2 linked regions of the Homo sapiens genome follow. The protein of the gene in region 2 purifies or fractionates together with the protein of the main gene of each other region. This does not show direct contact. Each region holds a gene or a part of one and is shown on either strand. Other genes may lie near its edges.

Region 1 (3,656 bases), on a different chromosome or scaffold from region 2:
AAAAATTGTGCTTGTTTTTTACTGGATCGGCATATAATTTTGAATTATTGCTAATATCACACTAATTCCTTTTTGTTAAATGTGTCTTCATAGATTACACACACTCCGCCTGCAGGAATACTTATCAGGGCTTTAATGGTAAGTATCCTCTTTCAGCTTTTCTCTTCATGCGCATAAAAATATAGTATCAATGTAAAAGGCCAGTTCTACCTATTTCAGTCCTTGTTTTGGTTCTTGATATATCATTTATGTGTTAATATTGTCTTACTATATATAGTATTTGAATTGGGGAATGTGCTATCAGAAAATGTTAGGGGTTATTCACATTAGTTTGATTTTTTTTTTGGTCCATTTTGTTTGAATTATGATTATTTTAATGTGTTCCAAAGGGCCTAACTACATTCTGAGTGATGAATCACAAGACACTGGCTGAGTTATTTTGGTTGAATTAGAGGCTTTGGTATTGAGTAATGTAGACTAAGTGGATTATTGGCTTGGTTCTATATAGCTTGTATTGTAATGCATTTTGACCTTGTTTTTGAGGTCATTTTCTTCAGTGTGTCCAAATGTGTTAGTATATAAAGAGCTGTCTAGAGGAGCACATGAAGAAGCTTGATTGTTTATTGACATGAGCATGACATTAGACTTGTGACTATAGAACTAGATAGAATCATGAGAGGTATGTAGAATACAATTGGATGTCATTTTGATAGTTATTAGAGTTAGGGCCCTGCCACACAAGATAATAATACAAAAAAAGAACACAGAACAATTAATGCAGGTTAAAAAACATATGAAGGACTTGAGGCATTAAATATCATGATTGCCAGAGAAATGTAAAATCCAACTTTCGTACAGAATAGAATATATTCACAAAGTAAAACTGAAGCAAATGTATACTAAAGACTATGCCATTTATGGGAATAATTACTGAACAGTTAATTTTTATTTCATTATCTTTAAAGATTAAGATAAACTTTGGATTTCATGTGGGCTAAAAAGGCTTAACATATAGGGAGTTAGTACTGAAGAATGTATTTGTGAGCTGGAAATTGAAAATTACCAAAGGAAGTTTAATTTGCATCCACATGTAAGTTATATTGAAAACTGGAAAATTAACGAGAAAGCCATTTCATAAGTTTTGATATAAAGATTTTAAGGCCTTGAACTTGGGAGGTGATAGTAGTAGTAATCTTAAAAATAAAGAGCAAATTAGCAGAACTTGCAGGCTGACTAGTAATGGGTAGAAAATTGAGAGGGTTGAATAAAAATGAATCCAGGATTTTAAACTGGAATGTATGACTAGTGCTTTTACAAGGGAGAGGGGGAGGGGAAGAGGGAGGGGGAGAGGGAGAGAGTTTGTAATGATAAAAGGCCATCTAGGATTTACTGGATAGTTGGATTTAATGTCTAAACATAGGACTTGAAATGCAGACTCATGCAGGGCCAGATGTTTATTTATTAATTAGTATACAGTGTTGCAAAAAGATCTAATATGACTTTTATTTTTTCTCTTAATTTTAGTTATAACTGGTTCTCATCTGAGGGTGATTGTTGGAATCTCTTGGGGAGCTTTTTCAAAGTCTCTCTTTTCACACATAGCCTATACCTCTTGAATCTTAATTTCAGGGCAAGTGGTCTTTGGCTGTGTATGTTGTGCAAAACTACTCTGAATGATTTTGGAAGGCACCTCTGATTAAAGACCAATGCTTGACAGTACTTCTAGGTCTAGATTATCTATATTTTACAAATGAGGAACTTAATTTCAGGGATTCAATTTGACTTTGTTCAGCAAATATTTATTTAGTGCCTGCTGGGCATCAGATATCGTTCTAGGAGGTGGGAATATAGCAGTGAACAAAATGGACAAATATTCCTGCCTTTGTGAGGCTTTCCGTCTAGTGGGATGAAATAGTAAACAAGATAAGAAATAATATATATGTCATAATTTAGTCCACAGGGGAAAAAGGGAGTAATATTTATTGTATGTTAGATGATGATCATTGCGAGGGAGAGTAACATAGAGAAGGAGGATAAATGTGTGTGTGTGCTTGTATGTGTTGCAATTTTAGAGTCTCTGGGGAAAGACTCACCAAAAAGATGACATTTGAGCATAGATTTAAGATGAGTGAGTATGCAAGCCATGAAGCCATTTAGAAGAAGACTTACGGGCTTTAAGAAATAAACAGTGTGTAGGTACCAAAAAGCCAAAAATATATTTTATTGTTAGCACTGTATTTTCTAGGAAGTGAAATGAAGTAGAAGGCATTGGAAAACATGGCAAGATACAGATTTTCCCCACACTATTTCTTGGAAGGAAAATGTATTTCCAGTGTCTCCATGTTTTCCTTCTTGCTTCATAATACCTTTTACATAAATAGCATATAGAAAAGGGGAGAGAAAAGGGTGTGGTAGCTCATGCCTATAATCCTAGTGCTTTGGGAGCCTGAGGTAGGAGCACTGCTTGAGGCCAGGTGATTGAAACTAGCTTGGGCAACATAGTGAGACCCTGTCTCTACAAAAAAATTTTTTAAAAACATTAGCCAGGCGTGGTGGTGCCCCCCTATAGTTCCAGTTACTCCAGAGGCTGAGATGGGAGGATCGATTGAGCCCAGGAGGTGGAGGCTGCAGTGAGCTATGATTGTGCCACTGCAGTCCAGCATGGGTGACAGAGCAAGACCTTAACGCTGGCTTGACTAGAACAGATGATTTTTTGCTGAGCAATCTTAAGACAAGGTTAGAGTGGTGAGGTGGAGCCAGAAAGCATTGAAAATCAAAGATAATTTGCTTATATATCAGAAGCAATACAAGTGAAGACCTGAAAAAGTTGAGGGAGTAAACAGTGCAGGTTCAGGGGAATGAGCATTCCAGGCAGAGGGAACAGCAGCTGCTAAAATGGGTATACACCTTGTGTTCTAGAGACATCAAGGGGCCTGGTGTTGTAGTAGTGGAGTGAACAGGGGTGTATGTAATTGATAATGAAGTTAAGAGGTGATGGGGCATATCATGTAGGGCAGGGTTTCTCAAATTTCTTACATTTTGGACTGGGTAATTTTTTGTTGTAGGGGGATGTCCTGTGCATTGTGGAACATTTAGCAGCCTCCTTGGCCTCTATAATATGCCAGATGTCAGTAGCATCTGCCCCCTAGTTGTGACAACCAAAAATGTTTCAGACATTGCCAATGTCCCCAGGGGGTGCAAAATCTCCCCTAGTTAAGAACCACTGGTATAGGTTCTTAGATGTTATTTTAAGCTTTGGCTTTTACTTGGAATAAGAGGAACCCATTGGAGGTTACTGAGCATTGAACATGATTGAACTTAACATTTTGTCAGAATTATTGTGGCTGTTGTCTTCAGAAAAAACAGCAAAGGAGCAAAAGTGGAGCAGGAAAACCAGTTAGGAGACTTTTGCAATAACCTAGGTGGTAGATGTTGGTATCTTGTAGTAGGGTGCTGGTAGTGTAGAGTTGCTAAAAAGTAGTCCCACTCAAGACTTAATGTCACATAGTTAGTTATTTTGGTCATAGGTCAGTTTTTAATTTTTTTTTTTTTTTGAGGTGGAGTTTCTCTCTTGTCGCCCAGGCTAGAGTGCAATGGTGTGATCTCAGCTCACTGCAACTTCCGCCTCCTGGGTTCAAGCAATTCTTTTGCCTCAG
Region 2 (3,656 bases):
CTGGTGGCATTGCCATCAATGGCCTACAGACTTGGTTATTCATTAAAAAAATATTTTTTAATCAGTAGATTTGTGTATAAATAAGTACTTGCTAACAGTTTCTGAAATGTTTTCTTAAAGTGGCTCTATTATTTCACCAGAAATTTAGTTTACAAAGCTGGGTGCAGTGGCTCATGCCTGTAATCCCAGCACTTTGGGAGGCTGAGGTGGGTGGATCACTGGAGGTAAGGAGTTCGTGACCACTGTGGCCAACATGGTGAAACCCCATCTCTACTAAAAATATAAAAAAGCCGGGCATGGTGGCACACACCTGTAATCCCAGCTACTCGGGAGGTTGAGGCATGAGAATCACTTGAACTTGGGAGGCACAGGTTGCAGTGAGCCGAGATTGCACAACTGCACTCCAGCCTGGGTGACAGAGCAAGACACCATCTCAAAAAAAAAAAAAAAAAAAAATTTAGTTTACAAATGAAGTCAGTATTAGGTATTTTTCTATGTCCTGAAAGTAGGTCCACATGAAGTGAAGTGCTTTTTTTCTGATGTCCATTCATGTAAAACAATTACATTGTGAGAAAAAACATGATGCAGTACTATTTGCTTTTTTTACCTCAAGTAACAAGTCCCTTCATTTCTACGTATCACAAATCCCACAACATAAACAAAGCTACCTGGATTCTAAATTACTTAAAATATAACATAACATTTTGAGTCAGATGTTGACAACTTCTGGTGGGTGCGCTAAAAGTCTGGTTCTGAATGGCATGGCCAGTGCAAACTAGGCAAATTCTAAAGAACATAAAGTAAACATAATGTAGTAAAGGTACCTTACTATATTACCTATTAGCACTAAATTTTATATATTCTTGCTTTTCCCTGTGTAATCTTTATTTAAAAATTGGCTGCTAATCAGGATAACTCCATGAAAATATTTTTATTTTAGAGATAGGGTCTCACTCTGTCACTCAAGCTGGAGTGCAGTGGCACAATCTTGGCTCACTGCAGCCTCGACCTTAAGTGACCTTCCCACCTCAGCCTCCTGGGCAACTGGGACTACAGGGGCACTACAGGCACGAGCCACCATGCCTGGCTATTTTTTGTAGTTTTTGTATGACGGAGTTTGCCATGTTGCTCAGGCTGGTCTTGAACTCCTGGTCTCAAGCGATCTGCCCACCTTGGCCTCCTAAGTGCTGGGATTACAGGCATGAGCCATCATACCCAGCCAAGCACATTTATATTTTAAATTGAGGCTTCTATACTACTCACAATAGCTATGATATGGAATCAACAGATTAATGAATAAAGAAAATGTGGTATATATACACAGTGGAACACTATTCGGCCATAAAAAAAGAATGAAAGCCTGTCGTTCAAGGCAACATGGATGAGCCCGGAGGACCTTATGTTAAGCAAAATAAATCAGACACAGAAAGAAAAATATAACATGTTCCCACTCATATATGAAAACTAAAAAAAAAATGAACTCATGGAAGTAGAGAGTAGAACTGCAGGTATTAGTGGCTGGGAAGGATTGGGAGGAGGGGAAAACAGAGAGGTTGGTGTAGAAAAAGTTTTTGATGGAATGATAATGATAGTGACATTTTTCGACAGAGAGCTGTTACATGCAAGGCCTGTACCCTTCGCAACAGCCTGAGCTGTAAATGAGAAAAGAAAACCCATCTCACACAATATTCTATTCACTTAGCTGCTAAGGGCCTAGCATCCATACTAACTGACTTGACTGACTGACCTCAAACTAAACCAAGGTGAGAAGGTATTAGGAGTTGAAGAGGGGTGGTGGACTTGAAAATCTTCCTGCCATTCCTCTTGTAATGGATTGCTAGTCCCCAGTCTAGACATAAGACTTTTACTTGCAGGGCAGACTAGTTAAAAACTGTGCTATGACCTTTCCTCTAAGCCCATGAGAGTAGATGAGGTATTTTTAAGCACTCATGAATAATGTGCAAAATGTTTTGAAAATAGGTAATGTTCAAGATTCTTAAAAATAAAGCAAGACATTAACATTAATTGTCTACCTGTAAAGATCAGACTCCAAAAGTGTCAGCTGACGTGCAATTTCTATTGGATGAAGTGTCATGAGATCAAATGTTTCAAACTGTCCTGGTTTGCTGATATGCCATTCAATTGGTGGAGGTGGACTTTCAAAGGTAATATTATGGCTTACTCCGTTTGCCTGAGCTTGCTTCTTCCTCCTGATGATCTTAGCAATTGACTCTACCCATTTTTTCATAGCTTTCCCTGGAAAAAGAACACATAAAGAAAAATGTCTTTTACTTGACAGACATGACTGCAAATCTTCATTTAATCCTTAACTTTCACCCAGCCTCAACAGTTACCAACTCATGGCCAATTTTTATTTTCTCTAACCCTACTCATGCCATCCCGTCACTTCCTAGGTTATTCTGAAACAAATCCGAGACATCGTATTTCATTCATATTTAAGCACCTTTAAAACACTCTTTAAAGTAATAACCACAACACCATTATCACACATAAAACTGACAACTTCTTAATACATTGTTATCTTGAAGTATTTTGTCACTGTTCACATTTCTCTCTCTGATTATTTTCCTTTTTTTTTTTTTTTGAGACAGGGTCTTGCTCTGTGGCCCAGGTTGGAGTGCAGTGGCGCAATCTCAACTTATTGCAACTTCCATGTTGCGGGCTCAAGTGATCCTCCCACCTCAGCCTCCCAAGTAGCTGGGACTGCACATATCACCACGCCTGGCTAATTTTTGTATTTTTTTTGAAATGGAGTCCCACTTTGTCACCCAGGCTGGAGAATAATGGCGTGATCTCGGCTCACTGCAACCTCCACCTCCCGGGTTCAAGCGATTCTCCTGCCTCAGCCTCCTGAGTAGCTAGGATTATAGGTGCACACTACCATGCTTGGCTAATTTTGTTGTATTTTTAGTACAGACAGGGTTTCACCATGTTGGCCAGGCTGGTCTCGAACTCCTGACCTCGTGATCTGCCTGCCTTGGCCTCTCAAAGTGCTGGGATTACAGGCGTGAGCCACCGCGCCTGGCCTAATTTTTGTATTTTTAGTAGAAATAGGGTTTATCCATGTTGCCCAAGCTGGTCTTGAACTCCTGGGCTCAAGTGATCTGCCTGCCTTGGCCTCCCAAAGTGTTGGGATTACAGGCATGAGCCACTGTGCCTGGCCATATTTTCTTATATTTAGTTTGAAAAGGGATCTGAACAAGATTGCACATATTGCACTGAGTCAATGTGTCTCAAGTCTCCTTTAATCTACAGGTTACTGCTTTATTGCATATTTTTGCTTGCACTTTGTGGAAGAAATTGTCATTTGCCATGTTTTTCTGTCCTCTATATTTTCTGTAAAGCAGAGATATAGTGACTTGGTCTGATTCAGGATTAATTTTATGACACAAATACTTGCCAAGAATACTTCTAACAGGAGGCATATAATGTCTAGTTAACTTTTTGTGATAGTACCCATCCAGTCATGATAATTCCCTAGGTTTATTATTTTACTAGGACCTGAGAAATGTGATATTCTACCATTCCTTCTTCACTTACTAGCTGAAATACTTCCACAAAAATAAACTTTTCCTCATGAACTATTTGGTTATTCTGAAGTATAACTAGTATAGAAAAGAACTTTGGACATTAAC

What was found.
Region 1: the proteins of SOS2 (region 2) and ZNF326 purify together in Homo sapiens (affinity purification with mass spectrometry, with the first as the bait; one large-scale study listed by BioGRID). This does not show direct contact.

The regions. Positions count from the first base shown.
Region 1 is NC_000001.11:89,998,017-90,001,672, forward strand, and holds part of ZNF326 (DBIRD complex subunit ZNF326), read left to right. Parts: intron 1-93; coding exon 94-138; intron 139-3,656. UniProt on the Homo sapiens protein: Core component of the DBIRD complex, a multiprotein complex that acts at the interface between core mRNP particles and RNA polymerase II (RNAPII) and integrates transcript elongation with the regulation of alternative splicing: the DBIRD complex affects local transcript elongation rates and alternative splicing of a large set of exons embedded in (A + T)-rich DNA regions.
Region 2 is NC_000014.9:50,147,975-50,151,630, forward strand, and holds part of SOS2 (son of sevenless homolog 2), read right to left. Parts: intron 2,257-3,656; coding exon 2,034-2,256; intron 1-2,033.